Linked DNA regions of Homo sapiens: region 2 is linked to region 1. Evidence: fine-mapped expression QTL. Tissue or cell type: substantia nigra. Region 1 holds a variant in brackets; the other region holds the start of a gene. All regions are shown on one strand. Distances are from middle to middle.

Region 1 (5,261 bases):
GTGTATGTTGTACCCAATATGTAGTTTTTTTTTTTATCTCACACTCCTATCCCTTCCTTCCCATCTCAGTCTCCAAAATTCATTATATCACTCCGTATGCCTTTGTGTACTTATAGCTTAGCGTTCACTTATAAGTGAAAACATATGGTATTTGGTTTTCCTTTCCTGGGTTAGTTCACTTAGAATGATGGCCTCTAGCTCCTTTTAAGTTGCTGAAAAATACATTATTTTATTCCTTTTTTATGGCAGAGTAGTATTCCATGGTGTATATATATACCACACTTTCTTTATCCACTCATTGGTTTATGGGCACTTAGGTTGGTTCCACATCTTTGCAATTGCAAATTGTGCTGCAATAAACATATGTGTGCCTGTGTCTTTTTCACATAATGCATTTTCCTTTGGGTAGATACCCAGTAGTGGGATTGCTGGATTGGATGATAGATTTACTTTTAGTTCTTTAAGGAATCTCCATACTGTTTTCTATAGAGGGTGTACTAATTTACATCCCCACCAGCAGTGTATAAGTGTCCCCATTTCACCACATCCAAGCCAACATCTGTTGTTGTTTTTTTTTTTTGACTTTTTAATAATGATCATTTTTGCAGGAGTAAGGTTGTATGTCATCGTGGTTTGAATTTGCATTTTCCTGATTTATTAGTCCATTTTCACGCTGCTGATAAAGATATACCAGAGACTGGGCAATTTACAAAAAAAAAAAAAAAAAAAAGAGGTGTAATTGGACTTACAGTTCCACGTGGCTGGGGAAGCCTCACAATCATGGCAGAAGGCAGGGAGGAGCAAGTCATGTCTTGCGTGGATGGCAGCAGGCAAAAAGAGAGAGATTGGGCAGGGAAACTCCCCTTTATAATACCATCAGATTTGGTGAGACTTATTCGCTATCATGAGAACAGCCCGGGAAAGACCTGCCCCCATGATTCAATTACCTCCCACTGTGTCCTTCCTACGACACACATGAATTCAAGATGAGATTTGGGTGGGGACACAGCTAAGCCGTATCACCTGATGATTAGTGACACTGAGCATTTTTTTCATATGTTTCCTGGCCTTATTTTGAGAAATGTCTATTCATGTCATTTGCCCACCTTTGATGAGATTATTATTTTTTTCTTGCTAATTTGTTTGAGTTCCTTATAGATTATAGGTAGCAGTCCTTTGTTGAATGCATAGTTTGCAAATATTTTCTTCCATTCTGTGAATTGTCTGTTTACTGTGACAATTATTTCTTTTGCTGTGCAGAAGCTTTTTAGTTTAGTCAGGTCCTGTTTGTTTGTTTTTATTTATGTTTCATTTTCTGTTGGGGTTTTAGTCATGAATTCTTTCCCTTGGTCAACATCCAGAAGAGTTTTTCCAAGGTTACTGTATTAGTTCGTTTACACACTGCTGTAAAGAAATATCTGAGACTGGATATTTTGTAAACAAAAGAGGTTTAATTGACTCACAGTTCCACATGGCTGGGGAGGCCTCAGGAAACTTATAATCATGGCAGAAGGCAAAGGGGAAGCAGGCAACTTCTTCACAAAGTGACAGGAGAGAGAGAGCAGGGAAACCACCACTTATAAAATCATCAGATCTCATAAGAACTCGTTCACTATCACCAGAACAAATGGGGAAAACCTCCCCCATGATCTAATCGCCTCCCACCAGCTCCCTCCCTCGACATGTAGGGTTCGAGATGAGATTTGCATGGGGACACAGAGCCAAAGCCTATCAGTTATCCTCTAGAATTATTATGGCTTCAGGCCTTAGATTTAAGTCTTTGATCCATCTTGAGTTGATTTTTGTATAGGGTGAGGGATAGGGATCCAGTTTCATCCTTTTGCATGTGGGTAGCCAGTTTCCCTACTACCATTTATTAAATAGGGTATCCTTTCCCCAATTTATGTTCTTGTATGCTTTGTAGAATATTAGTTGGTTATAAGTATTTGGCTTTATTTCTGGGTTCTCTATTATGTGCAGAATAATATTTTATCATCTTTATTTTTCTCTATGTCCTAACTTTGAGGTCTCTGTTTATACTTGACAGCTTGGGATGGTGGTATTGAGGGATGGGTTATTGGAAAACTAAGCCACCCTTAAAGAAACCTTTAAACCATTCATTATGTCTTCTAGAAGGCAGAAAGCACTATCGCTGCTTTAGCTTTTCTTCCTCATCAGGATGATTTATGGAGGCTTCTGAATTATTGGGATTGCAGCAGCGTTTGCTGTTCCCTGGGTGCCAATACACTGTCATTAAAGAATTGACAGTCTTGTAGTTTCCCTCACACATATCCTCATTTTCAAAGGCATGCACTGTGAATCCAGAAGCCTTTAGGAAAAAAAAACCATATCAGCAATTTGGTATGTTCAGAAAAATGTAGATGGAAGAGGCTGGAAACAGGATGGATCAGAGCCCATTATAGCTGACACATGTACTCTTCACCAATATTGCAGATATGCAATGTTTAATCTATAATTCACAGTATATTTATGCTTCTTCCCATTTTTGGTTTGCACAATATCCCATAAGGTAGATGGACACATATTATGGTTCCCCTTTTTTGAGGGAGCTGAGTTTCAGAGGAATTAAGGAGAGTGCCCTTGGTTGTGGTAGGTAATGAATTACCTGGAGAAAGGGGGCAGAACCATCAGATGGAGTGAGCTGGCATCTTCTGCGTGAGTATTCCCCTTTCTTGGGGAAGGGGAGGTAAGAGTAGGGTCAAAGCAGGGAAGACATGGGTGGCTTTAGGGGAATGTAAAGATCCTGAAATTACAAACAGCCTTTGTGTGTGCCTGTGTACATTTTACTGGAGAGAGGTCCAGTTTTTGAAGGGGCTGAAGACTCCTAAGTGGTTAAACACCAGTGTTCAAGGATTCTACAGCTGTAGATCATCTTGCACTCTACCTATGGAATTGATAG[C/G]CAAAGCTTTGCTGTGGAAATAGTACTTTGGTTTCTGCCTTACTGGACATTTACTACAAAAAACAACATAAATATCCATTCTTATACACCTAGAGAATCCCCTAGGCTCTATGGTGATCAGATTTACTATCTTGCCAAAAAAATAATAAGGGGAAAGACTGCCATTCTAAGAAGAAAATGCGTAGCATTAACAAAATCCTGTGGTCTCATCCCAGGGAAGCTGTATACAACTCAGAAAGCATTCTTTTTGTATACGGATGTCTATAGAGCAGAGTTACTGAAGGCAGCCACAGTTGCTGGGGTATCAGACAAGGGAAATGGAAACATAGTAATTTTATAAGCATTTCTTTGCTTAGAATTTCAGAGGGCTGCCAGAGTCATGCTCACAACTCTGGCTCCTGATATGCTTGTCCTGTGGACAGTTTCACACTGACAGTTTCATAAGCACAATTGGTGCTTAACCAAGCATGGACTCTAAGCAAAACCACTGCTGTGGGAGGGCATTATGCTCAGGGCTCAGAGCCTTTTGATAGAGAGAGTGTGATAAAAAAGAGCATTATAAAAATGATGAAGTTCATTTTCTTTTCTTGAATGTAAACATTAGACTACTTGGAGGCACTCACTAAGGGCAAACTGCGGAAGCCAGTTGTTGACACCAGCTGGTGGTTTTGTATTTTGGCCTCAGGAATTGACTCTAGGTAAGCTCCTTTCTCTAGTTGAGAAATGAAGTAACATTGTTGATTCAGGGAAATCATTTCCATCTGTATAATTTGGAGTTCTAGGCACAGAATGTAATCTGAGTGAGTGATGGGGTCAGGAGCCCCAGGAGGCTGCCTATTCATATTGAGGGAGTCTCCTGCCTTATGTGTCTTCACAAGAGATTAGAATTTCCTAGGTGTGATCATGTGATTGCTGCCAACTTTATAGCAACTAGAGACTGGATCAAGTTTTCCACTCAGAATGTAAAGCATCTTCAAGAAAGCGAGGTGAAATGAAGAACATGAAGAATATATCTTCTTTATATTCTCTCTCATTCCCTTCATCCCTTACTATACCCACTGATTGTGAAAATACTCTTCATCTTGACATTTATCTCTGCCTTTCTAGAACTTATCAATTCTTGGGTCAGCTACACATATATTACTTTGGCATTCACAGCCATGCCTGAGATGTCACTCTTATTCTTTTTTTTTTTTTTTTCACCTGGGGTGGAGTGCAGTGGCATGATCTGGTCTCACTGCAACCTCTGTATCCTGGGTTCAAGTGATCCTCCTGCCTCAGCTTCCCAAGTAGCTGGGAATACAGGTGACTGGCACCGCGCCCAGCTAATTTTTTGTATTTCTGGTAGAGACAGGGTTTCACCATGTTGGCCAGGCTGATCTTGAACTCCTGACCTCAGGTGATTTGCCTGCCTTGGCCTCCCAAAGTGCTGGGATTACAGGCATGAGCCACCAAGCCCAGCCTTATTCTAAGTCTTAAATCCAATTGTTGGCCAGGTTCTTCAATGTTTTTCTGCTGCTTAAAGGAAAGAGATTGAGATTCAAAATCCATTTGCCCAAAGAAGGTAAGTATGTTTATATATCAATTCATCCGAGCAGTGGAGCAAGTAGTTGGAGCTGCAGAAGAGAGGATAGAGACAGATGGGACACTGTGAGGCTGATTCTTTTAGTTAGAGAACATGAATCCTAGTGCCAAAAACATTAGTCCATGCTAGCTATGTGACTTTGGTCAATTCAGTCAATCTTTTTGAGTCTCAACTTCTTTAAGTTTTAGGGTACATGTGCACAACGTGCAGGTTTGTTACATATGTATACATTTGCCATGTTGGTGTGCTGCACCCATTAACTCGTCATTTAGCACTGGTATATCTCCTAATGCTATCCCTCCCCCCTCCCCCAACCCCACAACAGTCCCCAGAGTGTGATGTTCCCCTTCCTGTGTCCATGTGTTCTCATCGTTCAATTCCCACCTGTGAGTGAGAATATGTGGTGTTTGGTTTTTTATCCTTGCGATAGTTTGCTGAGAATGATGGTTTCCAGCTTCATCCATGTCCCTACAAAGGACATGAACTCATCATTTTTTAGGGCTGCATAGTATTCCATGGTGTATATGTGCCACATTTTCTTAATCCAGTCTATCATTGTTGGACATTTTGAGTTGGTTCCAAGTCTTTGCTATTGTGAATAGTGCCGCAATAATCATATGTGTGGGTGTGTCTTTATAGCAGCATGATTTATAATCCTTTGGGTATATACCCAGTAATGGGATGGCTGGATCAAATGGTATTTCTAGTTCTAGATCCCTGAGGAATCGCCACACTGATTTCCACAGTGGTTGAACT
Region 2 (5,000 bases), 620 kb before region 1:
GTAATCCCAGCATTTTGGGAGTCTTGAGTTTGGCAGATCACTTGAGCCCAGGAGTTTGAGACTAGCCTGGGAAACATGGTGAAACCCCATCTCTACTAAAAATACAAAAAATTAGCCAGGCGTGGTGGCGCGCATCTGTGGTTCCAGCTACCCGGGAGACTGAGGTAGGAGAATCACCTCAGCCTGGGAAGTCAAGGCTGCAATGAGCCGAGATCACACCACTGTACTCCAGCCTGGGACAGAGTGAGACCCTGTTTCAAAAAGAATTTAAAAAAAAAAAAAAAAAAAAGGAAATCACTAGTCCCAAACCACTTATCCTTGGAGAAATATGGACATAAACCCAAATTGCATGTTCTTTCCATTATATCACAGTGTCTCTTTGTAAAAGTGGCAACTTTGGGCTGGCTTACATGAATTCGCTGAAACCTTTACAACATATTGGCGGTGCTGAATACTTGGGGCTCTTGAACGTAAGCCTGCAACCAGGATGCTGGTGTACACCCTCACCCTGGAATGCTCAGCCTTGATCCTCCTCTTTTCAGAATGGCTTCATATCTATTTATTTGTAACATAGTGCTTAACAGTAGGAAGTCTTGAGCCAAATGCCTAGCTCTGCCACTTATCCCTGACCTGAGCAAGTTACTTAGCTTCTCCAGGCGTCATTTTCCTGTATTCTAAAATGGAGATGATAATAGCATTTACCTTATAGGATTGTTGTGAAGATTAAATGAGTTTAGGGCAATGCTATATATAGGTTAGTATCATCCATCAATTTGCAACATGATTTCATAAGTGCATCTAGAATATGCTTGTGTAAACCTATGGTTAGATGATGAAGCTAAGAAAAGCCTGAGTCCATCCCTGGAGAGTAAGAAACTAGTATACTCCTTTTACACAGTACCTTGCACACAGCACAGGCTTAACAGACATATTTAAATTGAACTGAAGCGAATACTACCAGAACTGAAAGTGGTAGTTCCAGATCTTTCAGGCTCAAGGTCCAGATTTTACAAGTGTTTCTGATCACCCTCCCCCTACCTCATTTATCGCAAAGAGCAGAGGCCAGGAAAAGGATGAATAATCAATGACCTTAAAACTCAGGTGAGAATAAAAACCAGTTCTGAGAAACCGTGTGACATTTACATCCTGGTACCTGAGCTTTAGATCACTCTGCATGTGTATTTCCTCTGCACAAAGCCCAGGAGGCTACTTTTATATTATTGGGGCAAATCTCCCAACAGCCCTGGGTACTAAACAGCCTTCAGCAGGTGCTTCCAAATTTTCTTATTTGCTTCAACTCCCAGGTTGCCAGGGGAAGCTTGGCCGACAAGTCTATACTCCTGGGCAGACTGAGCAACAGCAGGTGGTGGCTTCTGGATAAGAGGTGCTCTAGGTCGGAAGGAAATAAATGAGACTACGATCAGTTAAAGTTCGGTAAAGCAAGAGACGCCTTCAACCCGACGACCAGACGGTGGCTCCGCAGCACAGACTCTCTCGGATGGTGGAATTCCCAACCGGCTTCGATGTAGCCCCGCCCCTACCCAGACCACGCCCACCAATCACCGCCCTCTCCCCCCCAGGCCCCGCCTGGAGCCCGCCCCTCCTAAAGCATGCTCCACCTGACTCCGACACTGCCGGGCTTAGTCCGCCGGGCTTAGTCCGTGGAGCGCTTGCGCATTTCTTGAGTTGTCGTGGCACTGCCCAAATCTGAATGGGGGAAAGAGGGAACTTCATATTTCCTACAGACTCCGCCACAGCGACTTTGCGTGCTCTCTTAGAGCTGGTTTTGCCTTTCGTGGTCCTGAGAACCCTGGCTTTTGGTTCCCCAATGCGGCTTAAGTGTGCAGGTTTTAAGTTAGGCGATCTTCGGGCAGCCCTAGTCCCAGCACCGGGTCCTTGCGCTGAGTCTCGGGACCACAGCCGGGGAGGCGGGGTCCTTCTCTGGGGCGGTCGCGTTGGCAGCGGATGCGGGAAGCCGGACTCTGGGCGTCATGTACTACAAGTTTAGTGGCTTCACGCAGAAGTTGGCAGGAGCATGGGCTTCGGAGGCCTATAGCCCGCAGGTACGAGTGGCGCCTGGCCAGCTCGGACATGAGAAGTGGCGGCCCTAGCCTCGGCGACAGGCAGTCGCGGCGTTGGAGCCAGGGGAGGCTTCTGCCCGCGGTCGAGTTCGTCTCTGTTCTCCTTGCACCTCCCGGGGCCTCTCCACACCAGCGTACGGTGGTCACTGAGGCTTCTTTTTGTGTACCTGCTCACCTGGCGGGGGCTGGCCTGGCGTGGAAGTTTGGTCTGGCTCACTGCAGGGGTCAAGGTGACCCCCGGGGTCACTTGTCTAAAAGGGATGGTTTGTGGGGGTCCCCAGTGTGACCCGAGTCAGAGGTCCGGCCTTCTCCCTCAATTCGAAGACATCTGGCTTTCGGCCTCCTTGTCGTTTGTCATCTGCCAGAGCCCCATAGGCAGCCTCACTTGAGCTCGAGATTAGAGAGCGCGGGGCTATAAAGGCGTTTAGAGAAACCATGGTGCAGGGGGTTGGGGGGCTATGATCTGGGTTGGGAAATTTAACAGGTTACTTAACACGTCCAGGGAGGGAAGTTGCATGCAGCGAGGTTACACTTTCCCGATTGTAAAATATTTGACAGATGCTCGTTGTTTGGGTTGTCTGAAAAGTATTCCATTTCACGCAGATTCTACCAATTGGAGTTTGACTCTCCAGCATGTGTTGGGGGTAAACATGAGGGATTTTAGAGCCCCAGACGTGCCTTTTCAAATCATGGCGTTTTCCGCTTTAATTGTGTGACCTTGGCCAAGTTATTTAATTTATTGTGAGCTCAGTTTCATCCAGGGCGGCGTTAGTACACATTAAATGAAGTGTGTCAAGTGACTAGCAGTTTGGGCAGGTGGTTGGTTCTGGATAAGTGTTAACTGTTCACCAGAAGCTGTCTGAGATAGTATATTCCCTCCTAATCCTCTAGAGAAGTGTGGGAAGTGTCGGTGAGATACGCAGTTAGACTGCAGTAGTGAGGGGCCCAGATGAGGTGTAAAGGATACTCCATTACTGTTGCTTCATTTCCTTTTTCTGTGGGACACTGCAGCTTGCCCAAGAGGCAGATGTTTAAGAAAGATTTCAGGTCTGGTACCGTGGCTCACGCCTGTAAATCACAGCACTTTGGAAGGCCGAGGCCGAGGGTCGCTTGAGCCCAGGAGTTTGAGATCAGCCTGGGGCAACATAGTGAGACCCTGTCTCTAAAAACAAAAACAGATGATTCTAATCTCAGATAAGAAGGGCAAGTTTTTTTTTTTTTTTTCGGGGGTTAGTGGGGGAGTTGCGGTGGGAACGGGAAGGAAGAGTTTAGGGTTTATAAATGTTGAGTTTGTGATATGTCATGCTTGGTAGCAGCTAGATTTTTGAATATGGAGTTTAATAAACTTGGGTGTCTTCAGCCCATAGGTGGTAATTTGTAGGGAAGAAAGGTTGGATTATAGTTAGAGTATAGAAACATGAGGGAAGGGTGGAGAAGGAGAATGTGTTTAAAGAATAGTCCGGATGAGAAGGGAAACCAGTGTGGTCTCACTGAAACCGAATTGGTAATGACTTGTAAGGAAGGAATAGTCAGCAGTGTTGCACTTCTTTTACAGATTATGTGAGAAAATGGCCATTTCTATCATCTGCTTCTATGAAATGTATTCTCCAGTGTATGGATATTAAATGTTACAGTTTGATGAGTTTGGACAAACCCATGTACTGTATAACCACACCTCCCTCAATATGCAAGATGTTACATCATCCCAGGAAGTTCCCTTGTACCCTCTGTCAATCCCTGCCACCTTCTTATTCTGACTTTTATCATCATAAATAGATAGTTTTGCCTTTTTTTGAACTTCATGTAAATGGAACCAGCTCTGACCCAGGCTGGAGTGCAATGGCACAGTCACAGTTCACTGTAGACTCACTCCTGAGCTCAAGTAATCGTCCTGCTTTTGCCTCTGAAAATGTTGGAATTACAGATGTGAGCCGCCGTGTCTGGCTGCTCAAAAAATATTTTTGAGGTTAGTCCGTGTTGTACGTATCAGTAGTTAATTCCTTTTATCCTCTTATTCTTCTGTGGGATTTCATTTTATAAATATATCACAGTTTATTCTGTTGGTGGTAGTAGATGTTCTTTTATTTATTTTTTTAAAATATTTTTTGAGACAGGTTCTTGCTGTGTTGCACAGCCTGATCTCGAACTCCCCGGCTCAGGCAGTCCTGTCACCTCAGCCCCCTGAGTGGCTGGGGTTACAGATGTGTACCACCACACTTGGTTTATGTTCTTTTAATATATCTTCAGCATAATCTAGGTTTTGTTGCTTAGTAAGAAAAAAGTAAATTTTTCGACTAAAAACTGGCATATTGTAATAAAATGGGCGCTCAGCAGAGATTACCTTGCGATGAGTTTGATATAGATAGGGCTTTCAGATTTCTAGTACCTCTCCTCGTGAATCGTGTTTCTCTTGAGAATTTGAACTTCTTAGTTACTTAAAGATTTCTTAAACTATGTTGAAAAGAAGTGATACTGTGTAGGCTTTATATGAATTGTAAATTTCTGAGTGATTGTGACAGGTGCCCTCCCAACTAGGTGCTCTGACTTTGGTAATTAGGAGTACTTCAGCTTTTTCCTTTCCTGGAAACATACGATGAAGATGTTTGTAATTTGTAGTAGTAAGTAAAGTGAATAATTTGCCATGCACTAAATAACATAATATGGAAAAGGTGGTTCTGTAACAATTGCACAGGTAGAGATTTGTAAGTCAGCTTGACAGCAAGCAGTTGGTGGGATGGCATTTTCCATTGGTTGAAAGGCATCTTCCTTACCTTTCTCTGAATTGCGTCAAAAATAAATTGAGGCCAATAAGCACATGAAGATGTTTAACATTTTCAGTTATTAGAGCAAATCACAACCACAATGAGGTACCATTTAGTATCCACCAGAATGCCTAGAATCAAAAAGACAGATGATAAC

Evidence for each region. PIP is the estimated chance that this variant, and not a neighbour inherited with it, causes the effect.
Region 2: it holds the start of COX7A2L, and the variant in region 1 is fine-mapped to the expression of COX7A2L in substantia nigra (GTEx, PIP 0.98).

What each region holds. Positions count from the first base shown.
Region 1 is chr2:41,740,493-41,745,753 of GRCh38, reverse strand. No RefSeq gene overlaps it. Among named protein-coding and RNA genes, the nearest start is that of LINC01913, 130 kb to the left of the region's middle. The variant C/G (reference allele first, on the strand shown) is at 2,921.
Region 2 is chr2:42,358,153-42,363,152 of GRCh38, reverse strand. COX7A2L (cytochrome c oxidase subunit 7A2 like) reads left to right here and starts at 1,936. Exons shown (of 3, transcript NM_004718.4): 1 at 1,936-2,063. The coding sequence starts at 1,992. RefSeq lists enhancers at 1,196-1,285, 1,846-1,905, 1,275-2,018, 1,926-2,245, 2,019-2,763 and 1 more and a silencer at 1,476-1,645.